5 separate regions of the Homo sapiens genome follow, and all the other regions are linked to region 3. Evidence: fine-mapped expression QTL. A gene starts in region 3. Each other region holds a variant in brackets. All regions are shown on one strand. Distances are between the middles of the regions.

Region 1 (6,196 bases), 100 kb before region 3:
TTTTCAGAGCAATAGAAAGGGAGAGAAACCTGCCAGGAAAAAGAACAGCATGGAAAAGGCACAGAGTCACGGGCACTGGGAAGTCCAGTGGGATTGGAGACTAGGGTCATGCTGGGGAGTGGAGGGAGATGCAATGAAGGAGTTAGAGGGACGTGGTAAGGAAAGGTACAATTTCTGAGTGGAGTTGGGCTTGACCCAGCAAGTAACAGGCCACTGAGTAGTCAGTGTGTGGATGTTCTAGATTTTCCTGTTTGGTTAATGGTGTATTGGCTGCTGCTTGATACACAGCCACCTACACAGTCCAATTGTCTCCTCCTCCCTGCACAGGCCTGACTTGACCTAGTTATTCCAGAGCATTGCTCAATCACCAAATAGCTTCCATAAGAGGTGAGAGAGAGAGAGAGAGAAGAAGGAGGAGAGGGGGAGGAAGAGGAGGAATGCTTGAGCAATCCAGGAGACCGAGCCAGGATCGGGCCTCTGAGAGGCCCATGTGGGTTTCACATTCTCAGGACAATATTTGCCATCCTCACTGGCAGAGGGAGAGTGGAGACTATGCACCGAGCACAGGTCTAGGCCTGAATGGGAATGAGTCAGTGGCCAAAGGGCAGGGTTGGGAGGGAGTGGGTGGCTGATGGTGGACACAGGTGGAGGAAGAACTGGGAGTGTGCCCCTCTGCTGGGATTTCCCTGCTCCTGAGGCTCCCTTCAGCCATCCAAACTCCTTGGGTTTCCTCTTGTACCCACAATGCAAGGGTTGGAAAAGGGGGCCCAGTTAAGTATTTTGGGTGAGAAGAAAACCATTTTAACTCCTTTCTTTTCCTGACTTAGTTTACAGTTAGCAGCAATAGCTTCCACCCATAAATACAATGTACACTGCTTGGTATTCGCACAGCTCTTTAAAGTTTTTAAGTTTATACTTTATTATCCAAATTAGAGCCAAATTGCTAAACAGGACACTAGGACATCAGATATGCACTGGGACTATTCTGGTCATACCATGATATATGACCACCATAGATACTTAGAAATCCAGGGCTTCATGATACTCTTACAAGATCCTGGGAGTGGACCTCACCATCTCCATTTTACAGTTGAGGAGACACATGTGTTTCCTCTTAGCTGCCAGGGGGATGGAAGAGGAAGGTGGTCCAGCAGAGACTGGGTGAAGTCAGCTGCTCTCTTGCGCAGCTTTTCAGAAACAGCTGGGACTGTGCTGTTAGAGGCAAGGTGCACAGTGGAGCTGGGAAGGGAGCCACCATATGTGAGTGCCGGGGATAAGGCAGGCCTTGCCTTCATAAAATGTTCAGTGCTCGTACATCCATTGCCTCATTTAATTCGTTTTTTGTTTTGTTTTGTTTTTGTTTGTTTGTTTTTTGCCCAGGCTGGAGTGCAGTGCACGATCTTGGCTCACTGCAACCTCTGCCTCCCAGGTTCAAGAGATTCTCCTGTCTCAGCCTCCCTAGTAGCTGTAACTACAGGCATGTGCCACCATGCCTGGCTAGTTTTTGCATCTTTAGTAGAAACGGGGTTTTGCCATGTTGGCCAGGCTGGTCTCAAACTCCTGACCTCAAGTGATCCACCTGCCTTGGCCTTCCAAAGTGCTGGGATGACAGGAATGAGCCACTGTGCCCAACCTAATTCTGACATTTAGCTCTGCAAGGAGATAATATTTTATAGATGAGGAAAACAAAATTCAGAGAAGTTGAGTCACTTTCTTAAGGCCATAGAGGTAATAAGTAAGGAGTTGAGATTTAAATCTGGCACTGTACCTCTTCTATCACACCATCCTGCCACATTGGCACAACCCTGTATGAGGGTCCTCAAGGAGGCCCATGTCTGAGTGGTGGTAGCTCTTCTCCAACCTTCTTCTCTACCCTCTTTAATAACCAACTATAACTCTACTCCTCAGGCACTTATCTAAATATTCTTTAAGTCTAGCCAGAGTTTTACCCAAGATGAAATATGTACATGGAAAGAACCAAGAAACAAACCAATTCTAAACCAATTTCTCCTCTCTGGCAGAGAGGCTGCCCTAACTGATACGCTCTGCAGAAAACTGAGTGAGAAGGAAAATAAGAGCCAGGCATGGTGGCTCATGCCTGTAATCCCAGCACTTTGGGAGGCCGAGGTGGGTGGATCAATTGAGCCCAGGACTTTGAGAACAGCTTGGGCTGGCAAAACCCCAGGGGTTGGAAGTGTGAGGGACTGAGGAAGGAGGATCGCTTGAGCCCCGGAGGTTGAGGCTGCAGTGAGCTGTGATTATCACTGCACTCCAGCCTGGATGACAGAGTGAGACCCTGTCTCAAAAAAATAATAACAGGAAGGAAGGAAGGAAGGAAGGGAGGGAGCAAAGGAGGGAGGAAAGGAGGGAGGGAGGGAACTCAGTTACAGAGGTTGTCTCTAGTTGGTTTACTGTGGCTCCACCAATGTAAAGGGCATAGCCCCCTGGCTACCGTCCTCACCCCTAGGAGACTATGGTTTCCCCCTTATCCTGTCCTGATCCCAGTTAACTCTAAGAAGTCTTCTGCCAGCCCCCGTTCTGCCTCTTCTCCCAGGTGACTAGGCAAGCTGCCCAGCAGCCATCACCCACCCCTGCTCACGAACTGCAACTTGCACATAGGGTGATGGGAGGTCGGAGTGTGTATTCTCCTCAAGCTACTTTCATAACATGGGTCTGCCTGGAGAGTTACCTCATCCCAGATTGCTTGT[C/G]CAGGTGGCTGCAGGATCTTGCCAAGTTTTCTCTAGAACACTGTGAGCTCTATTAGGCTCTTATTTGTCTGAAAATTTCCTCTCCTCTCCAGTGAGTCTATTTCCTTGCTGCTCAAAGTGTGGACAACAGTTCAGTTGCATTGGTACCACCTAGGAGCTTGTTAGCAATACACAAACACAGGTCTCACCCCACACCTACTGAATCAGACTCTGCATTTACCCAGATCATATATGCAGAGTGAAGGTTGAAAAGAATTGCTCTAGATGCCCATGAAAGGTGAATTCCAAAACCCAATCATCTCCTAAAATAATATAATGAAGGATCAAAGATGATGGTCAAGTGCTATTTAAAACACCATGGAAGGCCCAGCGCAGTGGCTCACGCCTGTAATCCCAACACTTTGGGAGGCCAAGGTGGGCGGATCATATGAGGCCAGGAGTTTGAGACCAGCCTGGCCCACATGGTGAAACTCCGTCTCTACTAAAAATACAAAAATTAGCCGGGTGTGGTGGCACGTGCTTGTAGTTCCAGCTACTTGGGAGGCTGAGGCACGAGAATCCCTTGAACCCAGGAGGCAGAGGTTGCAGTGAGCTGAGATCGCGCCACTGCACTCCAGCCTGGGTGATAGAGCGAGACTCTGTCTTAGAAAACAAAACAAAACAAAACAAAAACACCATGGGGCATTCCTGTACTCAGGCTATAAAAAGTTAATTCGGTGCCAGTTAGAGAGATAAGTAAAATAGTCCTAAGTCAAGAATATTATACTAAGTCTGTCTTGTAAATCAAGGCCAAATTATTGAAAGTGGCTACATGGAGCTCTATGTTGGGATGTGTTCAGGTTAGAATTAGGGGTAGAGTCAGAGGTTTCAGCAGGAAGAAGTTGTGATAGATTAGCATGTCTCGCCTGGTCCCAAGAGGGTGGGGTGGCTGCCAGTGTGCCCTTATTTGCCCTCCCTGTCCTAGGTGTTCTCTGCTTTCTTGGCACTCAGTTTCATTTCTATCTCTTAGCAGTTTCCCTACTCAGCCCTTGGCATTACCTGTAACTCCTGTGACTAAGAACTGGATGACTGTGGACCTGACCATTTGGGACAAGAACTAAACCCAACACTTGCTCACTGCCCTGTAGATAATGACCCCTTGTTTCTGCCTTCTTCCATTCCATAGTCACAGCAACAAGGAGGAAGACAGCACAAATATGGCCCTGAAATGAGCTCCCCCTGCTGTATTTGATCCACTTTCCCCATGCAAGGGCTGTAGGAACCATGGTTTTCTTAGCACAGGGTCTGGGATGTCTCACAAGTCCTGGAAACTCATCCAAGTCACAGGGGCATTACTGTAAACACAAATTTTCCTCAGAACACAGTGCTCAAGGTTTTAGGCACAGAGGCAGTCACTCTTAGCCTCAATTCATCCTGCTCAGCCCAGAGCTAAACTACAGCGAGCATAGTGATTGACTAGAGGGAAACCTCATGACCTAGGGTTTCATTAGCAAGGATGCTTGAGGTCAGGCCTAAAAGCAAGAAGAGCTCAGTGTGGGACCTAAGCGTAGAAATCTGCCCTCATCTCCTTCTTGGACAGAGTCAGCTGCTCCAGCTCTCAGATCTCTGGGTCAATAACTCTTTGCTTTGCTTTGACAACACACACTACTGCAGCTTCAAAAACAGAATCCAAGCACACAAGGACCTCTTCCCTGGGGCTATCCCAAGGTCCCTGACTTTCCTACGCTGCCTAAAAAATGGAAACCAATGAGTGCCTATTAAGTGCTTGCAATTTCATAAACTTTACCTCCCTCAAACTTTACAATTCAATAATGTAAATGTCATTATCGAAAGCTATAGACAGGTTAAGTAGCACATCTAAGCTCTCACAGCTAGTAAGTGGTAGAACTAAAATTCAAACCCAGTCCCACTGGGCTTCAAATGGCAATGTCTTTAACATTCACACTGTCTGTGATAAAACCCAGTGATCCCTCTGTTGCCAGATCCAATGGCCTTTTCTTAGTTCTTTTTTTTTTTTTTTTTTTTGAGACAGAGTCTCGCTCTGTTTCCTGGGCTGGAGTGCAGTGGTGCGATCTTGGCTCACTGCAACCTCCATCTCCTGGGTTCAAGTGATTCTCCTGTCTCAGCCTCCCGAGTAGCTGGGATTACAGGCGCACGCCACCATGCCCGGCTAATTTTTGTATTTTTAGTAGAGAAGGGGTATCACTATGTTGGCCAGGCTGGTCTCGAACTCTTGACCTCATGATCCATCCACCTCAGCCTCCCAAAGTGCTGGATTACAGGCATGAGCCACCATGCCCGGCTCACCTTTTCTTAGTTCTTATCACACTCGATGTTTTAGTGACATTCCACAAAGCCTACCTGTGTGCCCCTCTTCTCGAAACATTTTCTTCTCCTGGCTTTTATGAAATCTCACTTGTTGATGTTCCTCCTGCTTCACTGGCTGTTCCTTCTCAGTCTCTTTTTTGTTATTCTTTATTTTCTACTTAACCTCTCAACTTTAGAAGACCTAGGATGCAATCCTGAGCTCTTCTCTTCTGCATCTACAATCCACCTGGGTGAGCCCACCAATCTCCTGGTTTGAATACCATCCATGTATGGAGATTTTCAAACTTGCTATTCTTGCTTTGAGCTCTCTCTGCAAATCCGGGCTCATATAATCAACTCTTTGTTTGACATTTTTACTTGTAAAAAAATTAATAAGATTATTAATCCACTCCCCTCCCCCCAAGTTTGCTTCTACTCCAATTTTCTCCACCAAAGTAAACAGCACCTGGTTACCCTCAAGCCAAAAATCTAGAATTATCCTTGATTTCTCTGTTTTACTAGGCACCATGACCAATCCTTCAGCAAGTATTGTAACTTCTGCCTCCAAAAGATATCCCGACACCCACTTATCTACTTCTTCATTGCCAACACTCTAATTGAATCCCTGGTCATCACTGCCTGGATCACTGCAGTGTTCTTATAACTGCTGTTTCTGTTTCCAATATCTCTGCAATCCATTTGCCATATGGCAGCTAGAAGGATCTTTCTAAAAACATGAATCTGATTAAATCACTTTCTTACTTAAAGTCTTCCAATGACTTTCCACTCCACTTTGAATAAAATCCTAAACTTCTTACCCTCTTCCACGAAGCCTCCCATGATCCAACCTCATCTCATTCTGCTCTCACCCTTGGCCACCACCCTCCAGCCACACTTTAGCCTTTCTTCGTGCCTTATCCCTACCAAGTGAGTTTCTGCCTGAGAGTCCTCGAGCGTGCTGTTAATGCTTTAGAATATTCTTCTCCTGGTTTTCCTAGGTCAGTCTTTCTTGTCATCAATTAAGTGCTACCTTCTCAGAGAAGCCTTCCTTGGCCACGAATCTAAAATATCCATACGCCAGCAATTATCATAGCTCATATTTTAATTCTCTGCATAGCTGTTATTACTATCTGATCATTTCTTGTTTACATTTGGGGGAGTTATTGCCTAACTTCTTCATT
Region 2 (6,196 bases), 36 kb before region 3:
CTTTACAGGTGAAGGCAACGAGACTTAGAGACTATGTCACCTAATAAGTGCTGAAAGGAACAGGACCCCAAATCCAAAGCAGAGCTGTGGTCATCTCTTTCCACTCCCATATGCTGAATCACAACAAACAAAGGGCCTGTCCTTGGGAGACTGTACACAAAGCACTGAGTGACCTTTGTCAACCAGAGGTGACTATCATTATCAGAGCTAGGAAATGCATGGAAGAATGGCCTTTTCAAGATCAACAGTTTAAATTACTTTATTAATATACAGAAGAACGAACGAAGGAGAACACTGCGTAATTCCTAAGCTGACCGCAGGTTCCAGGCTTTGCTCTGTAGTCAGACCTATAGCAATGTGTGGGGTATGGTCAGCACCCCAGTAAAGAGACTTCAATTCAAGCTTTGCTTTCTCCTCTAGATACAAGGTTTTAAACCTCTCACGGTTTCATTTCCTTGGCTGTATAATTACTAAAATCCTGCTGGCTTTGAAATTACATACACTTTGTAACATTTATGGAGAGAGTAAGAGACAAAGTGAGCAAACCATTCTGAATGGCATCAGAAAGTAACACTAAATACAAACTGGAAAGCATCTTTTCCTTAAAACAAATAAAACAGAATATGCCCTTCGGCAAAACTGCAACACTGATGTTTAATATCAGCAAGGATACCTTTTACATCCACTTGGGAAAGTTTCTTTTGGGCCTTTCTCAAACATTAGTGAAGAGAGAACTTAACGAATTATTCGACTGCTCTGGGAATGAACGTCATTTCTGAAGTATTTCAGGTTAAATTATTTTACACTAAAAATTCAGGGCCATTCCCTCCCCATCCAGAAGATTCCGCTTTACCTCCAGAACTTGTTGTTGTAGTTGTTGCTGTCGTAGTTGCTGCAGCTGCAGCCACTGCTGAAGACTGAGGAGCCCCAGTACTAGCTGCTTGAGGGGGGTCAACCACAGCCTGACTTTCTCTATCTCCAGGGATTCCCTGTAATAGAATTTCCAAGCTTTAAGATATCCCATCATGCAAAATTAAATATTATACAGAGTAAAAGATTTATAGTCTATTTAACATCTTGTTTGATTTTCAAAAGCATCAAACAGATGTCTGCTTCAATTAAAAGTAAAGGATTATTAAGCTGCATGGATTCAAATTAGATTAGAAATGACCTGGGTGCATTATAGAAAAACCCACATTGCTATAATAATGCAAAGCAGCACTGTCCAACAGAACTTACCATGATGATGGAAATATTCTCTGTGTTGTTCAATAAGACACCTACCAGGCACACGTAATTAGCATCAAATTTGAAAAATATTGATACATGTACCTTCTTAAAACTGAACACAACCAAAGGTTTTTGTGCTACCTATTAGTTCAGTTGACTTTTTAACTTCTTAGAAATCTTTATCAGCTGTTACTCAGTGATAAAAAGGATTGAGTTTGCAACTCTAGCTTAAGATAATCCAAAAAGAGGTTTTGATGCACACTTGACAGTTCTGAAATGACTCCTGGGGGAAAAAATATCTAATGGATACAGACCAGGTACACAGTGGCCAGGCAGGAGGATCTCCCCTACTGATCCATGGTACTGAGAAAGTGTCACTCAGAAAGTATCTCATAAATTTGAGGTACTTTTCAGTGAAGTGTTTCTTAAAGTGTCAAAGTATCTCATAAATGAGATACTTAAAGTATCTCATAAATGAGATACTTAAAGTATCTCAAAAAATGAGATAAAGTATCTCAAAAAATTTAATTTTTCAAAATTCATAAAATCGATATAAAAGAAATTGAAACCATTTAGTTTTTAGGTGATGCCTTTTGTAAGTTTATAGTACTTATCTTTTAAAGTTATTAAGAGCTTAAAACTGCATGCACTAAACTCTTTTGGGACACCTATTTTGATGCACATGATTGATAGACTTGTCATTTAAAATTTTTAAAAAGTCTTTATCAAGTTCTTATAGATTTTGAAGAGAATAAAGAACCAAGTATTACAATTGAATAAGATGATAAATGCTTCCATTCCCTAATAAACCAGAAGCCAAAAGCAACAACATATAAAGGATGAAGAGTAACACAGCAGGAAAATGGCTGCATGGATTAGATGTCACTCCAGGCATTAAAACCAATGTTTTTGAATGAGTTAACCAACGCAAACCCTTAACTCAGATGGGCAGTTATTTAAGTGCTAACAAACTACATACAAATTTAGGATCCAGGGCGTCCATCAAATTCTCTTTTATTAAACTAAAAAGTTCATCTTTATTGCTATAGATCGACCTCTATTCTCACACATTACATAGCCTCTTATATAAATGCTCAACATTTCTTCTTTCCATCCGTTCACCTTAACCTATCTCTTAACTAGTAACAGTTAAAAGCAACTTTTCCCCTTCAGTCTATGAAACAAAGAGCAAATATATAAAAAACATTTTAGTTATAAATTGTTTTTGATGAACTCATGTATCATCTATTTATTTGCATTTGATGCTCTACAGCAGTTTTAGCATTTGGTAACAATGATTCTGTATTTTTATACCTCAAAACTCCACATCTATTAGATCAAAATAACTGATACTGTTGAACTTATACAGAATTCTAAATCAGGTGTAAATGAAAGCCACTCCATAAAAGCTAATACTTTTATACAATCTGTTTAGGGTACACACTCCTCACCAAACAAATTCACAACAATTATTAATTCCACAATTCCAAACAAACTGGATAAACTGCCAGCATTTAAAGACACTACTCAAGAAGATAATGAAAAAGTGAATTTAAAAAGATAAAATAATATGCTAAGAAAAAGGTTTTGTGAACTTCACATGCAAAGGCATAGGCAAATAAATGGTGGAGGCAGAGTACAGTTATGAGGCTTATAACTGACTCTTCTGAAACTAGCTAGCTACCTGAAAGGAGTTTTTAACAGAAGTACAACCTAGACACAAAGGAATGGGTTAAACTGTGGATGTAATTCCCAAAAGGGTTAGAATCAGGCAACTTTAAGATGATATTTAGGGCAATTCAGACTTTGATAATACTCCAAAACACCAGACAATTATAGAAGTCTGAGATTTTAAAAAACTTAATTCAATTACTTTAGCCTGTGTCACATCTGTAAAACTAGCAGACTTTCATCTTAATACCAAGGGTTTCAGTTGATGTCCACAACAACCTATTTCTCAAAAACTCCCATTACCAGTAAAAAAAAGAATACTTTATTCAAAAAGTCCCTCAACTCCTACTGACTATAAAAACAAATTCAAATGCCAACGGAACCAGGTAGTAACATCATTCATTAAATGCATGATGTTACGTTGGTAACAGAGTGAATCAGAGGATAATGAATTAGATTCCACGATCTAAAATATTTTCCTTAATCCCTTGCAAAAATCTGGGATCAAAGTTGTCCAGTTAAACCAGAAATCTGTACTTTTATGTGAAATTTCCCAGTTTTTAAAAAGCTGGCAACTTATTACAGAAATATACACAGTATAAGCAAAAGAATTTGGCCCGGATTCTCAAGCTTGAAATTTTGGCCAGGCACGGTGGCTCACACCTGTAATCCCAGCACTTTGGGAGGCTGAGG[C/T]GGGCGGATCACGAGGTCAGGAGATCAAGACCATCCTGGCTAACATGGTGAAATCCCATCTTACTAAAAATACAAAAAAATTAGCCGAGCATGGTGGCAGGCGCCTGTGGTCCCAGCTACTTAGGAGGCTGAGGCAGGAGAAAGGCGTGAACCTGGGAGGTGGAGCTTGTGGTGAGCAGAGATCATGCCACTGCACTCCAGTCTGGGCGACAGAGCGAGACTCCGTCTCAAAAAAAAAAAAAAAAAAAAGAAAAAAGAAATTTTTGTTCTGAATAATTCACGCATAGTGGCACCTAAAAAGCTACTACAATGTTGGACCATTAGATTAAAAAAGGTTACATTTTATTAACACAAAATACAAACATACTAGAAAAAAAAAAGCATTATGTATATCATCTAGCATATATCAGTGACAAGTGAACTGGTCCTTTAAAATCTGTTTCTTTGAGATTTTAATCTTAAACAACAGAATGGAGTAAAGTAAAACATATTTCTCACCATTAAAAGATACTCCACTGCTCTGTCAGGGTTGTTGAAACTGGCTCTCAGGGCTGCAATTACTTGCTCTCGTTCATAGCCCATTGACATGATCTCAGTTACCATATTCTCGTAAGACTGACCCGTCACTAAAAAGGGAGGGTGGAGGGGAAAAAAAGGAACATTTAATAAATAAGCATTCTCTATACATTTATTGATTCATGTATACAACATTTCAGGAACTACTATGCTGGGAATACAAAGATGAGTAACAGTATAAATTACAACATATATGTAGTAGGTAATGGTCCCCCAAAGATGCCCTCTGGTTTGATCCCTGGAACCTATAAATAGGTTACAAGGCAAAGGGAAATTGCGGTTATAGATAAAATTAAGGTTGCTAATCAGCTGACTTTAAGACAGAGACCTCATTCTGGATTATCCAGGTGGGTCCAGTGTAATGACATGAATCCTTAATAGTAGTAGGAGGAGGCAGATGAGAGGGTCAGAGAAACAGGTGTGAGGAGGAGGAGACAAAACCAGGATGAGAGATGTTATGCTGTTGCCTTTGAAGATGCAGAAAGGGGCTACCAGCCAAGGTATGGTAGGACAGGATCAGGAAAAAAATTCTTCCCCGGAGTCTCCAAAAAGGAATGCCGGCTCCCTGATTTTAGTACAGTGAGCCCTGTGTCACACTTCTAACCTACAGTACTAGAAGACAGTTAATCTGTGTTGTTCTACACCAATAAGTTTGTGGTAACTTACTACAGTAGCAACAGGAAACTCATATAATATGTTTCAGAGTACAATAGAAAAATGAGGTATGAAGGTAAGGGAGAATTAGCAGGAGGTCAGGGAAGGCAACTGGTAAGAAGAGACACCAAATTCTGAAAACATGCTGGGGAAGGGATGGTATTTCAAACCATCAACTCCGATGGAACAAGTTCACAGTTTCCCTTTGATACCTTATATAACTGAAACGGGGGAAAGAGAGGTTAGGAGCTAGAAAGTTAAAATCTTGTACACTATACAAAGTTGGTAAAATGCCCAAAGCGCTAATATTCCAAGTCACTTCTTACAGACTCCTATGCTCCCTCCTCTCAATACAGACAACACTCTGAATAAATGAAACCTATTTTCCTCATAAACTTACCTCACTTAAAACTATCCTTTCTTCTGCTTGTGTTCTGGGGACCATTACCTTTATTGTTGCCTCACACTCAAACCAAACTGGATTTGGTTATCCTCCCTCTTCTCCACCAACATCTTTACCCCTCTGTGTAATTATCCTGGGTCAGTAGTTAACTATGTCCTATATTTCACTCTAAAACAAAAACACACCTCCCACCTTTGACTTCATCCTAATTCCTCTTTGAGGAACCATCTGCTGTCTTCTCATCACAGCCATAGCTATTGAACATGTGTCCACTTTCTCACATTCCACTCATTCCTCAACTAATTGCAATTCAGATTTCCCTCTCAAATGTGTCCCACCATTGTCTGTCTGCTCTCTTTAAACAAATGGCACCTCTATTTACCTAAGCACTTGGACAAAAACCCTGGTGATTTCAGTTCCTTTTCCTCTTCCTTCCACACCTCACTTACCAGCATACCTGGTAGGTCCTATCTCTAAATTACACCCCAAACCCATCTCTTCATTCTCTACTGTCATCACTGAAGACAAGCCCACAACAGTCTCTAGATGGGATTACACCCTGTTTCCAACTCTTGTCTCCATATCTATAATCTGTTCTTCAGCCAGTTGCAAAAGTCAAGTAAACACACACACACACACACACACACACGCACGCGTGTGCGCAAAACCCCTCATTTTATTTCTGGCTCCCAGCCCTCAACAATCCTCCACCCACCACACTCATCTTCCCGGTGTTACTTCAGCAGGCCACACCTTTTCCTGCCCCAGGGCCTTTACACAACACCAGCCATCTTAGATGGCCAGTTCCTTCAACATGCTTCAGTTCCATATTTAAAAGGCATTGCCTAGTCATCCTAGGTAGCCTTCTGTTTTTTCTTTAGGGAAGCCCTTTGTGTTAATATCACTTATCTTTTTTTTTTTTTAATGTTTCATTATTTTTTTCTTGCCCCAACTGAATGCAAGTTTGAC
Region 3 (6,196 bases):
AGTAATAGTCAAGTAAATGGTACAAAATGCCTAATAAGTCTAAGAAAGTTTTGTTAAAACTAGGGCAAATAAAAACACCTTAAAACAAATTATCTTGCTCTTTCCATTTTGTATATCCCCCTACTCTATAGCCAATGAGCTTTGACTAAGTCAATAAGGCTCCCAGAAGCCCCAGACCACGTTCTACAGGTCCCTGTACTCCTCCAGTCCTGCCAGCAAAGCTCACTAAACATTTACTTGTTCAACAAATGAATCATTCCCATGATTCCACTTATCTCACAGTCCTTTCTTCCATTTTTGCTCATGCTCATCTCAAGCTCACAAGAGTTGCTATACTGGCTACGTAAGTTACTTAATTTCCTTGGTTCCTTCTAGGTAAAAATTAAACAAGGACAAATCTGTGACCAGACCAAAAACAGGTCTCAATAAGATCCTATCTTATTTTAGATCTATTTCTAATATCCTTGGTTACCTCGTTCTCACAACAACTTAGAAACAGGACACTTAGCGTTGCCCTAGAAAACATAATTTTCATTGTTTATTTTCTTACTGGAATTCTAAGGTGTCGTATCAAAAACACATACTAATTAAAACCCACTACAAACATAGAATTGAAACAGTTGTCATGAAAAATATTTCCTAAAGTCATTAAAATAAAAACTGACAAGTCATTAAATGCAAACGTTCCATATATCCCAGAGGAAATGCTTTAATTTCTTGCCCCGGACTAACAGTATTAGTTTTTTTATACTAACAGCAACAAAATTATATTTATATAAATAGCAGCGAAAGCTGTAGAAACCGCTCCCTAACAATGGGCTTTTCAAAAATATACTTCCAGACGTATAACATATTACTTTTCCTTGGAAATAAACTGGAAAACAGCAAAAATAGTTAAGAATTCACACAAACACAGGTACAGCATTGACTCTCAGTTAACAGTATGCGTAAAGTGCCTAAAACGCTAAACAAATCTTACAGAACGTAAATACTTCAGTGGAGCTGTTGACAGAGTCACTGCATAACTTCAATACACCCACACATATTTACCAAAAAGCCACAATATTTCTTTAGCTTTCAATAATTCTGAAATTAACTGAGTATTATAAGCCGATTAAGTTACTGGGGCACCAACATTTGTTACCACAAAGAACCAAAGTCAAATAGGCATTTTACGTAGTTTGTCTGAAATCATCAAACAAACTCCATTTTAACTTTCACCCTTCAACTTATTAATGCACATTAAGCAGTAAAGAAATATTCAAGAGAAATTAGATTCTATTAGTACTGTCAGTCCACAGGGTATTGTCAATTACTTCTGAGGACACTGAAAAGTTTCTCATGTATAACTGAGATCTCCTGTACTTTTAAGAAGTTAATCACACAGCATACACCCACATATAAATATTCTGAAATCAAATAATTTTGTACCAAAATCCCAAAAAGGCTGTTTCTTAAAAAATTAAAGATGTACAAAACTTAAGATTAAATGAGATAAGTAAAACGTAACACTGTATCTCCACTCAAAGGAATCCATTGTTTAAATAATCGATTCCATTTACTGACCACCAAGTAAATACATACCATCTAATCTTCACATCTCTGCAAGGCAGGTATTATCCCTATTATACAGAGAATGAAACTAACCGTAATTTGCCCAAGGTCATAGCAAATAAGTTACAAAACCACAAATGGAACTCAGGTCTACTTAACACCAAAGCCCCTGATCTCCACCCAAAATAGAATCAACTACTTTTAAAAATAGAGTTGGGCAGAAAGCTGCTGGTTTAAACTTAGTATTATGACAATCTTGGCGGTGTATTTCCGAACATAAGCAGTAAATTTACACTCACAGCGTTTTTAGATTCTTGGCATAAAGTTGTACTGACCTCAACAGTGTCTCTTTATGCAGTCACAAATACAGAAAAATGTATAATGTGGACTTCTGAAATGTTTAAGGCTTTAACTGCAGAAAGGATTCAAAGTTGTTGTTTTTTGTTTTTTTTTTCTTTTTTCCCCCTTGAACTGCTACTGTTTGGGGCATCGGGGGAGGGTGGCTGCAGCGTTCCAACTCCTACAATTCCAAGATTTCTAACACAGAAAACCCGTTAAATCTGAAGTTTAGTTTGAGCCTGGATGGCTGTGAAGAGCTCTAACAGCTAAAACCATCACCAAAGAGGCCTCAAAGTGCAATCTACGCAAGGGTGTGGGTTTGGTGGCGGGAGGAAGGCAGCAGAACGATTCATTTGCAAATAAAAGGGTAAACAATTCTGAGGGGAAAGGGGCAAATTCATTTTCACCACCACTCACCTCTCGGCGGCAAACGGAACCTGATACTTTTTTTTTTCTTAAGGCTCATCTTCTCGGGTTACCAACTCTGGGAACTAAGCGGCTAACCAGGTCCACACAGGGGTAGTGGCGACGCCTACGTCTCCCTCCCCCACCTGTGCACCCATACCAGAAAGCCAGGCTCTACGGCTGAGACGGCCTGGACCTTCCCATCCCCCTCCGGCCCCGCTAGCACGAGCTCCTAGGCCCAGGCCCGCGGGCGTGCGCTCCACGCCATCTGCCACCAGGCCTTCGGCGTCCGGCCACTGCTTCCCCATTCTCCTGCCACAAAGCCCACGGCCAAGACAGGAGGATCGGCTCCGCTGTACGCCGCCAGGGCCGGCACCAGGACCCAGGGCCCTCATCGCGCCCTCCGGGGCTTCCCCCGCTGGAGCGCGCCGCCCGGCCCCACGAGCTCCTGGCGCTCCCCGCGGCCCGCACGCGGCTGCCCCTGCCCCCGGCCCGCGCGCATACCGTCTCCTCGGGGTCAATGTCTATCTTGAAGGTCTGCTGCTGGAGGGTCTTCAGGGTGACCTGCATGGTGCCGCCGCGCAGCTCGGCTGCCGGGCCTGCGCCGGGTGCTGGCCGCTGGGCGGGGTCTGTGGCCTGGCGGGGCCCCGGGGTCGCCCGCGCTCCTCGCGCTCTGGGGAGGAAGGCGGTGGGGGTGGGGGCTTGTCACATTCGCCCAGCGGAGCGGCCTCTCCCCCAGCCCGTGCCCCGGACCGCGCCGCTGCCTCCGCGACTGCGGCCTTCCCCGCGAACTCGGGCCGCCGTGCTTCCTCACGCGCCGAGCGCCAGCCACGGAGTCTGCAGAAGGCGCGAGGGGGTCGGCGAGACAAGCAGGGAATCCGCTAGCTCACCACAGGATGGTGGCCGCCATCATCGTGACTCGCCGAGACGTGCCCCCTCCCCCACGCGAAAAACCTGGGGGGATGGGGCCGGGCGGGCGAAGCGCGCAGGCGTGGGGTGCGGCGACGCTTTGCGCCGGCGCGGCCGAGGACTCCGCCCCAGAATTGGGGGCGGGGCGGAAGGCGGTCCTGGAATGTCGGCGGCCTGGACCCGGATTACGCAGGCGCGTTCCGTGGGCGGCAAGGGCTCCTGGGGCTTCCTCCTAGCGACTATTGCTGGGGCGTTCTCTCCGGCTGCCGCGGCTCCGCCTCTGTGCAGGCTCCGCCCGGCTGCCGAAGTTACGCAATGTGTAGCCCGGGAAGCGCTTCGTGGAGACCCGGCAGAGTGGATGCGGAGCCCTGGAGCGGGGGAGTAATCGGGGCGGAGTTTAAGTGAAAGGATGGCGGTAACCACAGTCTGGGGGCCAGCACCCGCGGGGCGCTTGCTGCGGGGCTCAGCCCTGGGGGTGTCGACTGATTCTTTAATCCCGACAGCACAGACTCCTGAGCTGGACTGCCCGAGTTCAAATATTGTTTTTTCTCACTAGCCTAAACAGATGGACCGATTTAAAATGAAGGTCAAGTTCTGTCACACCTCGGGGTAGAACTGTCCAGTGTTTCCCCATCTAGCCCCGAGTTAAAGTCAGAGTTATTAGAACGGATGCATTAGCCCCTCGCCTTTCTCCGAGTCGCCTTACTCTCCCCACTGGTGGATTCTAGGTTGCCCCCGGCTCCCTTAACATCCTTGCTCAGATATTGCCTTCTTGGTGAGGTCTGTTCTGGCTGCCTTACTTAAAATCCCAACTTCCTATCTCTGTTATCCTGCTCTGTTTTCTTGTATAGCGGGTATCCCTTTATAATTACCCTGTAATGTACGTATCTCTTGTTTATCATCTTTCTCCTTTTCCTGTGAACCCCAGACTGAAGCTGCACAGAGGCAAAGATTTTGCTGTGTTCACCCATGAACATGCCTGGCACATTGCAGGTGCACGGTAAATATTTGTGGAATGGGTGAATGTGCTTCTGGATCCTCAGCAGTAGAATGAGAATAATAATGTCACTCATTGATTATTGGAGGGGGAAGTTGAATATTGTATGTAAAATCATGATAAACAGTCTGTAAGCAGTTAGCTATTAGTAGAAAGTCCGTTTACAGATAGAAAACTGAAGTACAGAGATGTTGAGTAATGCACCTGGAATAACCCAGCCAGTAGTAAATGGCAAATCCACAATGTGACCTCAGACAGAATGACTCCAGAGTCTGTGTCCCAGGGTGTGCCACTATTCCCCTGTTTTTTGTTTTAAAGATTATTCTTATTTTTTTAAAGCGTCTGACTGTCATCCACGCTGGAGCGCTGTAGCACAAACACGGCTCACTGCAGCGTCAACCTCCTGAGCTCAAGAGATCCTTCCACCTCAGCCTCTTGAGTAGCTGGGACCACAGACACACACCACTGCTTCCCAGCTGATATTTTATTTTTTTGTACAGATATGTTCTCCCTATGTTGCCAGGGCTGGTCTTGAACTCCTGGGCTCAAGTAATCCTCCTGCTTCGGAGTCCCAAAGTGCTGGGATTATATGTGAGCCATCGCTCCCAGCTATTCTCCTCTGTTTTATACTGTGCCTGTGGCACATTTGATTTAGTTCAAGTATAAAACACAGTTCTAGTCAGGCCACTAGCTCTATGACCAATTACAAATTACTTCTCTGGGACAGCATCCTCACTAATACAATGTCACTGCTTGGTTTTCAGTGGCTTCAAGGAGCTTGGGTTTAATGTTTTCAAGAAACTTTCCTTGACCAGCTTCTCCCTCCACTAACCTGATATTTCCCCTTTCACAACACATAACTCCCTTCATAGTAATTAAATATGCAATCTTCTGCCCTCTGTCTTCCTGTATCTACTCGTAGTCACCAGGTGGTTTCATCTTGGCCCTTGTTTTGAAATACCTCCAGCCTGGACCTTTCCCCTTAGCTATAGAGTTAGCCAATTGCCTAAGCAATATCTTCACCTGAATATGTAACAAGCCTCTGAAACTTAATGTGGCCAAAGAGAACAATTGATTTCTCTCTGGACCTCCTTCCCCCCTGCAAACTGCCCCTCTCCCAGTTTTCCCCCATCTTAGTTTATGGCCTCACAGTCTACCCAGGTGCTCAGACCAAAAATCTGGTCTTCATCCCTGATAACTCTCTTCCCTCACTCACCCACTCCCAACCACCACATGCAATTCATTATCAAGCCCTGTCAACCTTATTCTCCAAAGTATATCCCCAAGTCAGCCTTTTTTCACCGTTTCTACTTCTACAGCCCTAAGCTAATCCATCATTATCCTTCACCTGCGTCCCACCTGGTCTCTCCGCTTCCACCCTTTACCCCCAACAGCCTCCCCAGCAGCCAGAGTGGCCTTTTAAACCCATAAATCAGAGCATGTTGTATCTATGCTTAGTATCTCATTACATTTTAGAATAAAAGTCAAACTCTTTACGTGGCCTTGGAGAGCCCACATGATCTGACTCCTGCCAGTTTCTCTGACCTCATCTCTTTCCTTCTCTCACCCACTCATTCACTGTCATCCATTTCCCTTTCAACCCTCAAACAGGTTAAGCTGGTTCTAGCCTCAGGGCCTTTGCACTTGAGGTTCCTTCAGCTTGAAACTCTATCTTCCCAGATCTTTGAACAACTAACTCCTTTTCATCTTCAGGTTCCAATTCCAATTTTACTTTTTTAGAGAGGACTTCTCCAACCAATTTAATAATATATATTAAACATGTGTTAAGCCTTTTTTCTTTTTCTTTTTTTGAGATGGAGTATCGCTCTGCTGTCGCCCAGGCTGGAGTGCAGTGGCGCAATCTCGGCTCACTGCAACCTCTGCCTCCCAGGTTCAAGCGATTCTCCAGCCTCAGCCTCCCGAGTAGCTGGGATTACAGGTGCCCGCCACCATGCCTGGCTAATTTTGTATTTTTAGTAGAGATGGGGTTTC
Region 4 (6,196 bases), 22 kb before region 3:
CTGGCTAACATGGTGAAACCCCTTCTCTACTAAAAATACAAAAATAAGCTGGGCATGGTGCCATGCGCCTGTAATCCCAGCTACTCAGGAGGCTGAGACAGGAGAATCGCTTGAACCCGGGAGGTGGAGGTTGTAGTGAGCCGAGGTCACGCCACTGCACTCCTGCCTGGGTGGCAGAGCAAGACTCTGTCTCCAAAAAAAAAAAAAAAAATGGAGTTAATGAAGAAAGAAATTTAAATTGATGGCATTAGCACATTAAAATGTATTGATCAACTCTAAAATTCTCACACTGTAAGCTTTTTTTTTTTAAAAAGGAGCTTAAAGCAATTAAGAGAATAAGATGTATTGTGCTGACTTAAGACATATTAAGTTTGTAATATTTAAGTGCTTTAGTAAACCAATTTTTTAAATGCGTAAGTTCCCTCTCATATACAGACCTGATCAACAGCCCTTTGATGTAACAGCTTAACCTGACTCTAGGTGGTATCCACTAGGATAAGATGGTTGAATGCATTTCTAGTTGTACATGGGAAAGATGGATCAAGTTAGGCAATGGTGTCATAGAATGCTTAAAGCAGTGTTCTAGGCAAGTAACAGGGCAAATATTCTATTGCCTAAACCCATGTTGTCTTCTTAGGGAATCAATTATTTAGAAAGAGACCCCCAAGTAAGCAATGAACCAGGTGGCTCAGACTCCTCCAAACATGGTTGACTAAGTCAGACACAGAAACCACACTCAAAGGCAGAACACTAAAATGAAGGATCACAACTATATCTTTCTGATCATTGTCATATATATCTTAACCCCTTTCCATGTCTGTAAACCCTTCCAGTCACTGCATAGTTTTCCACTGTGTCTGATTCTGACTCCAAAGATCATATAACTACTGCCTCTGAGGTCCTGAGTTGCACTAAGTCACAAAATACAAACAGCTGTAGTGCCAGTGAAGGCTGGTCATAATATAACTCATGCTCTTAGATCAAGGAATTGTGCTGTATGATTTCCAACCAAGAGAACTCTGACTTAAGCATTTGCTTTGGTCATTTTACCTGATCGTCTGGGGAGAAAAACAAAAGTCTTGTCTTAAACTGCTCAATAATCCTAACTGCCTAAGCAGCCACTTAGTTGAGGTGTCTCTGCTGTCAACTTCCCACAAGAAATTATTTCTTGCTCCTCAAATATCTCAACACTCTTTTCCTTTTTTTTCCCCTAAAGATCCACACAGGCAGAAGCCTGAATTTCTCACAAGTTCACAAAGATACAGATACAACAGTGAAAAACTGAAATAGTCCATAGGTTCAGGTTACAAGAGCTAACAAATGTCAGAACCAAACACAATGCTATATAACTACGGGAAAGATTTACTAACATGGAAGGATGCTTATGATATATATGACAATGACCACAAAGAATACAGATCAAGTACAAATGATGATCAGGGTGGCAATGTCATGATGTAATCCTTATTCATTTTGGTTATTTGTATTTCCTAACGTTTCTACTCAAAAAAAAAAAAATGACTTTCACCTGCTTTCTCCTTTCCACTGCCCCCCACCCTGCCCAAATCAACAGAGTACAGAAATCTGATTATGAAAATTTGTACTTATATTCTCCTTAGTAAGCTATCAAAACAGACGCAGCATATGTTTTAGTCAAACATTTAAAAAAAGCTTAACGTAATAGATATAGTCGGTTTGATCAAAACAATAATCAAAATAAATGCATGAAGTTCCTGTTAAACACGGATTTTGAGATAGAATGTCCTAGAATCCAGTTCCTACCTGTCAGTTGCTGTTGGGCTAGTAGCCACTGGTGTCTCTGCTGGCTTTTCTGCAGGCTTCTCTTGTTTAGCTGCACTAGCAGGTGCAGGTTCAGAAGATGCTGTCGCTGATGCTGGAGTGATGGATGCAGGTGTGGAAGTGGGGGCCAAGGCAGGGACAGGGGTTGGAGCCTGAGCCACAGTTGTGGTGGTGGAGGAAGTAACTGCTGTAGTGCTGGCAGGAGCTGACTGCTGAGTTGTAGCTGGTGCTGGTGTGGACACTGCTTTGGGCTAAACACATTAAAAGACAAAATAATTACAATAAAATACTACATACTGCCTGATCTCTAATTAGACTGTACCGTTACAGGATGCCACAAACATAGCACTAATAACAACCTATAACTTGAAAATAATTTTGTAAAATGACACAATAAATGATCAATATTAACAATCTGACTCATGGTTACTCTTTCAAAGCTCATGACAGCGTATGTTAATCTTAACTATCAACCACAATTAATTTTACCCAACAATTTCCATCTTCATATCAAGTTAATATAAAATAAAAAATTTGAAATATATATAGATATATAGATATATATATATATATATATAGATATAAACCGTATCATTTTCCCAAAAAAACTTTATGTACCTAAGTTGTAACTTTAAGGTACCTAATACCACTTAAAAGCATTAATAAAATAATTTTCTTTAATTTTAAAGACAGGGTCTTGCTACCTTGCCCAGGCTGGTCTTGAACTCCGGGCCTGAAGCAATCCTCCCACCACGGGCTCCCAAAGCGCTAGGATTACAGGCATAAACTACTACATCCAGCCCAAAATAATGTTCTTGAAATGGCAGTATAAATGTTTATTTATAAACATGTCAAATATTCTGTTGTACTGTATTTTTAGAAGAGGGAGGAAAATCCCAAAATTGACTACAAATCAACAGATCCAAGTACAAAAAGGTTCACAATACTTTCAGACATATATGTAATTAAGCAGAAAAATAAAGGCCAAATTAAGTTACCTCCACACGCTCAGCACTTTCTGAACTGGAAATAGAGCCATAAAGCTTCCCACAGAGCAAAAAAACAATTAGTTGACCCTTGAACAACAAGGGTTTGAACTGCACTGGGTCCACTTACATGATAATTTTTTTCAATATAAGTTACACTGAGTGTGCCTGCCTCTCCTTCTACCTCCTCCATCTCTGCCACCTTGAGACCGCAATACCAACCCTTTCTCTTTCTCAGCCTATTCAGTGTGAAGACAAGGATGAAGACCTTTATGATGATCCACTTACACTTAATGAACACTAAAAATATTCTCTCTCGTGATTTTCTTTTGTTTCTTTTTGAGAGAGGTTCTCACTCTATCGCCCAGACTGGAGTGCAGTGGTATGATCACAGCTCACTGCAGCCTCAACCTCCCAAGGCTCCTGCCTCAGCCACTGCCCCCGCCCCCAACACCAGGTAGCTGGGACTACGGGCTCACACTACCA[C/T]TCCCTGCTAAATTTTTGTATTTTTTTTTTTTGTAGAGACAAGGTTTCGCCATGTTACCCAGACAGGTCTCCAACACCTGAGCTCAAGCGATCCGCCCACCTTGGCCTCCCAAGGCGATGGGATTACAGGCATCAGCCACCACACCTGGCCATGATTTTCTTAATAGTTTCTCTAGCTTACTTTAATACAGTATATCATACATGTAACATATAAAACATGTATTAATCCACTGTTTACGTTATCAGTAAGGCTTCTGGTCAAGAGTAGGCTATTAGTAGGTAAGTTTTGGGCAAGTCAAAAGGTATATGCAGATTTCTGACTGTAGGGGAGAGGCCAGCACTCCTAAGCTCAGTGGTGTTCAAGGGTCAACTGTACATGTGTAAAAATCATACATGATTTTTAGTCTTCTCCTAAGGCCTCTCAATGCTCGCTACCTGTTTAGTTCATAACTTTCCCAAGGACAAAAGGTAGCTGTTTTAGTGGAAGACAAGGCTTAAATTCAACATAATTTGCCACAGGCATAAACAAACTCTAAAACCAATGAGCTGCCTTGTCTTTTTGATTTGAACTAATAAAGAAGACACTAGGAAAAAGGTTAGTGAAAGGTGATAGGTTTTTAAAAAATACTAGTAGCATTACTCCCTTCTTTTCCTATTTAGCTTAACTTTCTTAACAGCCAATATAATATTCTGCAGATTATTACTGTTCTAAAACTAAAATGAGCTGAAATCCTGAGATCATTCTGGATCTTCAGTTATTCTGGATAAACTGGAGCTTCACAAAGGTGAAAATTTAGAGTCTTAAGCACCAAAACTTTATAATAACCAATCTAGATAAAAATGTATTTTTAAAAGTGGTATACTCATTTAATATTTTCCTTAATTGTTATCAAAATAATATTGCAATGTAACTTCCCTTCAAGGTTCCTACTGCCAAGAACAGCTACTTATACTTTATTCTAAACAGTACCAAGCCCTTCTCTGCTTTTTAGTTTTTATTCTTGCTTTTGATCTTAATAGCTTTTTCCTTTCCCTTCTTTGTATTAATAAGGTCATTTCTCAGTGCTTCCATAATGCCTTACTGTAGCAGCATTCCCTCCCTTTTCATAGTTGTCCTCTATTAACTTCAAATAAAACAATCATAAATATCATTAGAATCCTATGTAATATTAGGAATAAAAGACTTTAAGGAAAAACAAAAGGACTGTATGCAATATAATGATAGGCTTCAAGTATCTATTCCTCAAACACACGCACCTATTGAGACTTTTTCTGCTTAATTCTTGTGTTCTAAACAGTCAGGATCACTGTAATATTAAAAGAAACTAAGACCAGTAACAAAACATATTTAAATGTGTGGCTATCACATTTCCCATTATGTACTATGTATGCTAAAACTAGATAGGAAAATAGGATAGTATTCAGTCTTAAAAGTTCAGCAAATTCTGGCACAAGCTATAACATAGACAGATGAACCTCAATGACATTATGCTAAGTGAAATAAGCCAGTCACAAAAAGACAAATACCATAGGATTCCACTTATATGATGGTGATAGCTGCAAAACAATGTAACTATAATGTTATTGAACTGTACACTTAAAATGATTAAACTGGAAGTTTGTTATATTTTACCACAGTTGAATAAAAAAACCTAGATGATACAAGGTTTCCTCACGATTCTGCTTGTTTTTAAACTTAACATATAATGACTTAAGTTCTTAAGTATAGCAAAATCAACATGGTTCTTAATGAATTAAAAAATGTTCAACACTTGTAAACTATTTAGCTGCTTGCTCCCAGTACAAAAGCATGTGGTAATTAGAATTTATTTCTTCGACTCTATTTTCTATTACTATTAACTATTTTGTGACTTTGAGAAAAAACCCACATTTAATCCACTTTTGGCCTTTGATGAAGTGGTTTCAATTAGTGATTTAAACTCATTTTCAGTGCTACAAGTAACACTGTTCTTTCTCAGATTATGACAATCCAATCCTAAAAATGAATGTCATGAGTACCACTTCTCCATTTGTCTCTTAATTCTACACTGCATTATATATCTTTAAATAAACAAGTATATAAATAGTCTCTTAAAAAAATCCATGTTCATTCTCTGCTTTAAAAAAAATTTAATTTTATAAATTGTTCCAAATACATTCCAGCCTACTAAATCACAAAAAAGTATCTGTTTAAAACTTCCAGGCTGGGCGCGGTGGCTCACGCCTGTAATCCCAGCACTTTGGGAGGCCGAGGCGGGCGGATCACGAGGTCAGGAAATCGAGACCATCCTGGCTAACACGGTGAAACCCTGTCTCTACTAAAAATACAAAAAAATTAGCCGGGCGTGGTGGCATGCGCCTGTAGTCCCAGCTACTAGGGAGGCTGAGGCAGGAGAATGGCATGAACCCGGGAGACAGAGCTTGTAGTGAGCCAAGACAGCGTCACTGCGCTCCAGCCTGGGCAACAGAGCGAGACTCCGTCTCAAAAAAAAAAAAACAAAACAAAAACAAAAAAAACTTCCTCATAAAAATCATTCCATCATTTCTTTAGTTATCTTTTCCCTTTTTTTAGTTTCTAAAAACATATTCTTTCACTAAGAACTATCACTGTAATAATAAGCTTTCATGCCTTTTCTGTCTTGAGGAATCTGTTAGGACTAGTACGTAATTTAGCAGGTCTATTTAAGGCAAGCTTACAAAAACTACAGAATAAACATTTATTCCACTTATAAAGACATTTTAAAAGAATTATATAATGATTTCACTACTGTAGCAAAAATAATTTTAACATGACATTTTATTTTTCAATTGTTTTAATTTACATAAAATTTTATTAAAACTATATTATAGTTTAATGTGTAATTAATGTAAAACATTAATAACTTTATGTTTCACTTAAGGTAAATTCTTAAAAACCTTTCATA
Region 5 (6,196 bases), 50 kb after region 3:
TGAAACATCAGCCAGAGCCAGAGGGCAGCTACACCAGCTTATACCTATGTAGGTCAAATAAGACCTTTCTTCCTCTTCCCTTCCTGCTGTCTCTGCTTCCCATCCTGGAAGACCCATTGGTAGCTAAGTGCTGGGGAAACAAAGTCAGGGTCATGGAGAAGTAGCATTAAAGGGAACACAGAGATGGGTATCTCATTCCCCACTATAGGCCCCTTAGTCTAAAGCATTGCCAAGCCTACGATGAAGTTGGGAGTTTCTGGGCAGATTAATTTATAAACCGAGGTTGTGGTTTGGAACTGAAGTGACCAGAGGGCATTTTATTATCTGAGATGATCAGAGAGTCCAAAGACCTTTCTATTATTTCATTTGAAGTTGGGGAGGGGAAAAGAACTGGCCTAAAAGAAGATTCAAATGGGCAGTTGAAGGTGAAGAATAAAGCTATTTTCTTTTTGCATCCTAGGAATCCAGCTTGCTCACGGGTATCATTCTATTAGTATCATTAAATACATGAATCATCTCAATCATCCACAGCTGGGTTTCAAACTTCAAGCCATGGCAATTCTATAACATCTGTCTGGTGGACATGCGCTCCTATTCTCTGCAAAGCTACCTTAAGCATCTCTACCTTCCTTAATTTCCGAACTTATACTGCCTCCTTACACTCAGATGATCTTGCTTCAGTCTTCACAGAGAAAGTCATATCCATCAGATGTGAGCAAACCCTCCATTTATTTTATATTGCCAAATGGAGCTTGGAACTAAGAGTATTAATTGTTAATCAACACATATGTTACAAATATGTAATGGATGGCTCCACTATTTGAAAATGGTATAGGCCCAGTGTGGTGGCTCAAGCCTGTAATCCCAGCACTTCAGGAGGCCAAGGTGGGAAGATCACATGAGTCCCGGAGTTTGAGACCTGCCTGGGCAGCATAGTGAAACACCATCCCTAAAAAATAAAAAATAAAAAAAAATTAGCCAGGCGTGGTGGCATGTGCCTACAGTCCCAGATACTTGGAGGCTGAGGTAGGAGGATCACTTGAGCTCTGGAGATTGAGGCTGCAGTGAGCTGTGATTGTGTCACTGCACTCCAGCCTGGGTGTCAGAGTGAGACTCTGTCTTGAAAAAAGAAAAGAAAATATATTCTCCTTGGCAGGTGCACTGTTGCCTCTATAATCTTATTTTCATTATTGGTTTGCTTATTTGTATTAAAACCTACGAGCGGATCTAAAGTCAAGTTTTAATTTATATGTGTGGTATTTTGTAAAATACATCCCAAAGATTGCCATTCATACAGTATTTCACAATATTTGAAATAGGGTATTTTACGCCTTTGCTATTACCTTCAGAGAGCTTTTGTAGTCTCAATTCTCTTATTCCATCTAATTACAACTTCATTTTAAAAGCAGCTGGGAGTATATATACCCTCAGCATTTAAGAATGTTACATTTAATGTATTGAATGAGTTTTTAATTCCAGTATAACTAACAAAAATAATTTAAAAACAGAATTGCTAATGGAAGCATGCTTCTCTATATAATTTACATTATCATAAAAGAACTCTAAGTTCATTATAGAAAATTTGAATATCACAGGGAAGTATAAAGAATAAAATAAAAATCAGTCATAATCACACTGTCACTTCCATACTCATTCTTAAGATTTCCCAGTCTTTTCTACTTTTCAAAGCTGATAAAATAGTGCACATACTCTGAAAAAATCCTGCTGTTTTACTCCCTGAAGATTATATAGCAGCCATCTTTTTTTCCTGTGTCGTGTAATACTCACTAACAATCTAGTTTTGATGACTGAAGTGTATTGTATCAGTTTATAATGAGTTATAATTTATTATATTATAATGCCTATTATTGTATACAGTATTGTAGTATATAATCTTACCCTAATATAATTTATGTAGCAATTCATAGCATGCTTATTTTTAGAAATAGAAAAATCTGATACACATTTGTCTTCTGGCATGTAATCAGGTTTGGTATTTTCATCCCACCATCAATAACCTTAAATTTTTTGCCAAATTATACTCACTTTGTAATCTGTAAACAATTACAGTCCCATTTTATTTTACTTAATTAATTAATTTATTTTTTGAGATGGAGTCTCGCTCTGTTGCCCAGGCTGGAGTGCAGTGGTGCGACCTTGGCTCACTGCAACCTCTGCCTCCCAGGTTCAAGTGATTCTCCTGCCTCAGCCTCCCAAGTAACTGGGATTACAGGCATCGGCCACAATGCCCAGCTAATTTTTGTATTTTTAGTAGAGACAGGGTTTCACTATGTTGGCCAGGCTGGTTTCGAACCTCTGACCGCAAGTGATCTGCCTTCCTTGGCCTCCCAAAGTGTTGGGATTACAGGGGTGAGCAACCGCACTGGACCTGCAGTCCCATTTTAAATTCAGCAAAAACAAAAAGGCCACCAAGCTCTTTAAATGTCTGAAATTGCAGTCTCCACTCATGGTCTCTGTTTTCCCTATTTCATTTATTGCTTAATTCCTTGTTATCCAGCTCTCCCCC[T/C]TCTTGAATTCTCCTTTTTATTCTCCCCTCTGTCTCTCTTCAATAGGAAATTTGCCTTTATTGGCTTTTTCTTTACTGCTAAATGCTCATAGAAAAATCAGATATTACACATAAAGCTCATGGGCCTTATATTTGCCTGCATATCAGGGGTGGAACCATTTGGCGGGAGACTCATATATACCAAGTTCATCACACTGAAGTATCAGAATACTGGGTTTTAAACTTACCCAATTAATAGTGGAGTTGTCATGTGGTCTGAAATGCTCTAAGTCTGTATGACTAACATTTTCTCTTACCGAAGATAGATATTCAAGGGAAGCCAAACCATAAACAGTAGTTTGCTTAATAAGAATGACACCAGAGCAAGAGAGTTTGGATTAGACATTTAGAATGTTCAGTGGCAACAGGCAACCCCACGTGTGCATCATAATAACTAAGGTTAGATGTGGTGTTAGGGTTGGGCTGAGGCAAGGAAACTGCGATCCTGAGAAATCCATCAAGGAGATGAGTGCCATTTTGAAGCTCCCCTTGTGAGACAGCTGGTTGGCCTTCTTAAATCTGTCTGTCTTAACTGTGCATGGTGCACCTTCCTATCAGAAACTACTGCATTGATCACTTGCATCTTTCTTCACTGTCTCTTCTTCCTCCTGGTCATCCATGACTCTTGCTTTTTTGGTCCTCCTCCTATGTCTGATGGTTCTTTCATTAACTTCTTTCTATGCTAACTCTTAGTTCTTACATCTCTGAAGCAGCATGTTTATACGAATTCTGCCCTGGGCCTTAAAGTAGTTATTAACATGGCTCACTGATGGCAGCACGCCTTTTTCCAGACTCATGGTTGGATGATATTTCCTGCCTCCTTGGTGGTTGAGTGGGGCTATGTGATGACTCCTGGCCTTTGATATATGAGCAAGATAATGTCTGTCATATCTGGGCTAGAATATCTAATTGCCAGCGTGAGATCCTCCTTTTTTTCTGCTGTAGAAACTAGCAATGTTCCAGGTGGGTGGTTTGCTCATCAGCTCAAATCCCAGGGCGAGATGATGCTGAGCAGAACTCATAGTCAGCTCTTGACATAAAGAATGGATGAGAAATAAAACTGTCATGTATTAAGTCACTGAGATTTTGGGGTTGTTTGTTACTGTAGCATAATCTAGCTGTGGCCTGACTGAAACAGCCTTTTTTTTTTTTTTTTTTAGAAAAAACTCTTTACCTTATCCCTTGATGGTTTTATAAAAGATTAAGACTTTAATTTTATCCTCTAATCAAATCTACCAGACTAAACTTGATTGATGCCCTAGCTCAGATCCCAGTTTTCTTTTCCTTTATTTTATTTTATTTTATTTTATTTTATTTTATTTTATTTTATTTTATTTTATTTTTTGAGGCAGACTCTTACTCTGTTGCCCAGGCTGGAGAGCAGTGGTGCAATCTTGGCTCACTGCAACCTTTGCCTCCCAGGTTCAAATGATTATCATGCCTCAGCCTCCCAAGTAGCTGGGATTACAGGCACCTGCCACCACACCAGGCTAATTTTTTGCATTTTTAGTAGAGACAAGGTTTTGCCATGTTGGCCAGGCTGGTCTTGAACTTCTGGCCTCAAGTGATCTTCCCGCCTCGACCTCCCAATGTGTTGGGATTACAGGTGTGAACCACCGCACCTGGCAGATCTGTTTTCTGGTTAACACGTGACAACTTCAGGGGTCATAAGAACCTTGATCTGAATGTTCTGCAAGATATCTCAAATTCACCATGCCCCAAAACAACTTATCATCTCCTTTCCCTCAATTGCTGCTGCTTCTCTATTGCCATTCAGTTAATAACACCACTTTCTCTAATTAACTCAGCATTTTAACCTTGAAAATGTGCTCCTCATGGGTGAGGTGGGGCCAGTCTTACCAGTGACAAAATTGAAAAAGCAGAAAGACCAAGCCAAAACACGAAGTCCAGGAACCAGAGCTGTATCCACTGGAGTCCTTAGGAATTGTATTTCTTAAATTCTGCCTTGTATAGAAAAATTAGCTTCTCATTTTCCTTTTCAGATCATGCAAATGGACTTCCATTGGTTTGCTGAAAGCAAATGTATTCATCTTCTCCATCTTCTCACCTAAAAAGATGAGATCATTCTTTTTAAAATGTGATCTCCTCCTCTTCGTCCTCCTCCTCCACTATAAAAAGAATACTTGCAACAACAGGATGACAGTGTGTGTCAAGCACACTGGCTTCTGCAGGCTCCATAAACTGTGGTGGACTTTCTTTGTACCACCTTCTTGTCTCCATTACATAGTTGTGGAGGAGCGGGCATCTAGCCTCTAAATGCAGCCAAGAAAGGGAAATCAAGACTGATGTTCTAATGGTGAGGTAATATCCAATCTATGGTCTCTGAACCCAGCAACTCCACCCCAGGTTCGTTATCTGTGTCTGCAGTTTTGTGGTGATTGCAGATCTGGAAAGCTGACACTCCAAATGTCACCAAGCCATTTATTTAATCATCAAACCAAGCTCATGAACCAATTGCTCCTTCCATCACCAGCAAAAAGTAAAAAAAGGAGAATGTGATGAAATCCGCCTTTGGCTACATTGCAGAAATCAAGAACATATCTGAGATTGGCTGCTACAGTTGCCAATTAGGTTATAATCAAAAGAGGAGAACAGGGAATTAAGGGTAAAGTACTATCCAAAGAATAGAAGGTCTAGGGGCACAATCCATGCTGGTCTTTTCCTTTGTTAAGGCTGCTTCTTAATATCTCTTTAGGATGAGAGCCAAGACCATTTCTTTGGTCACAGGGGCTGGATGGATATGCTATGCTTTAAGAGGCAAGCACTAGTATTTTATAGGAGTCTATGCATGAAGTCAAAGCCACAGAACCAAGTATTTTGAGGTGTGTGAGGGTGGGATTGAATCAGAGTAAATTGAGATCAAGCTGCCGTTGTTGCTATTGAGAAGATGATGCTATTCTTATTTCTAGTTATTTATGACTAGTTTTCTCTCTCCTGTCTACAGTTCTAAGCTTTAATGACAATGCAGTATTTCTGAGAATTGACATAAAGAAGGGCGTGGAGTTGGGTCAGATTTTTTGTTTATAATGTGATTTTTTGCTTAGTTTCTCCATTTAATTGTGGTACCTCAGCTGTGTCTGGTGTTCCCAAGTCTGGAATACCTATTCATCCACATCTCCAGGGAGGACATCTTTGGTGCTCTGCTGGAGTAGGGAGAGTTGGCTACCTGGCCACAAAGGGTTGATTAGGAGACCTCAGAATTTGCCTACTCCTTACAAAGATTTTTAATTGATTGTCTTGTTTTCAATTTGCCTTCAGAGGCAGCTGGCATCCTCAATTCCTGACACTTTCTGGGGATTCTGAGCTATAAATTGGTTTGCTTCTTCTGGTTGACTCCTCCTCCTGTAGCCTCATCCCTCTCTCCTCTTGGGTTGCCATGTCCAAAATTTTGTGGCTGTCTATCATCTGTGGTCATTTCCCTTTCTGTTTCCTTTGTTTTGGGGGATCCATGTTTTATTTTTATTTTTCCTGTCATTTTAGAGGGGCTTGGAAAAGGGAAAACAAACTTCTGTATTCAATCTTTCATATTTTCTGAAAGTCTATTCAGTCACTTTTTTCTGTCAATTTCTATTATGTTTTTCAGAACACTCCTGAATGTGTCTTGAACCT

Evidence for each region. PIP is the estimated chance that this variant, and not a neighbour inherited with it, causes the effect. A credible set is the group of variants that fine-mapping cannot tell apart.
Region 1: its variant is the best candidate, but not a certain one, in a credible set for the expression of RAD23B in cerebellar hemisphere (GTEx, PIP 0.58).
Region 2: its variant is the best candidate, but not a certain one, in a credible set for the expression of RAD23B in whole blood (INTERVAL, PIP 0.90).
Region 4: its variant is the best candidate, but not a certain one, in a credible set for the expression of RAD23B in whole blood (TOPMed, PIP 0.87).
Region 5: its variant is the best candidate, but not a certain one, in a credible set for the expression of RAD23B in whole blood (TOPMed, PIP 0.58).

What each region holds. Positions count from the first base shown.
Region 1 is chr9:107,384,084-107,390,279 of GRCh38, reverse strand. No RefSeq gene overlaps it. Among named protein-coding and RNA genes, the nearest start is that of LINC01509, 79 kb to the left of the region's middle. The variant C/G (reference allele first, on the strand shown) is at 2,709.
Region 2 is chr9:107,316,776-107,322,971 of GRCh38, reverse strand. It overlaps RAD23B (RAD23 nucleotide excision repair protein B), which reads right to left. Exons shown (of 10, transcript NM_002874.5): 6 at 4,093-4,220; 7 at 854-989. Among named protein-coding and RNA genes, the nearest start is that of RAD23B, 37 kb to the right of the region's middle. The variant C/T (reference allele first, on the strand shown) is at 3,595.
Region 3 is chr9:107,280,302-107,286,497 of GRCh38, reverse strand. RAD23B (RAD23 nucleotide excision repair protein B) reads right to left here and starts at 3,219. Exons shown (of 10, transcript NM_002874.5): 1 at 2,803-3,219. The coding sequence starts at 2,868. RefSeq lists a silencer at 2,681-3,240 and an enhancer at 3,731-3,890.
Region 4 is chr9:107,302,234-107,308,429 of GRCh38, reverse strand. It overlaps RAD23B (RAD23 nucleotide excision repair protein B), which reads right to left. Exons shown (of 10, transcript NM_002874.5): 4 at 1,783-2,051. Among named protein-coding and RNA genes, the nearest start is that of RAD23B, 22 kb to the right of the region's middle. The variant C/T (reference allele first, on the strand shown) is at 3,273.
Region 5 is chr9:107,230,073-107,236,268 of GRCh38, reverse strand. LOC107987110 (a long non-coding RNA gene) reads right to left here. Exons shown (of 3, transcript XR_001746873.2): 3 at 4,130-4,634. Among named protein-coding and RNA genes, the nearest start is that of RAD23B, 50 kb to the left of the region's middle. The variant T/C (reference allele first, on the strand shown) is at 2,528.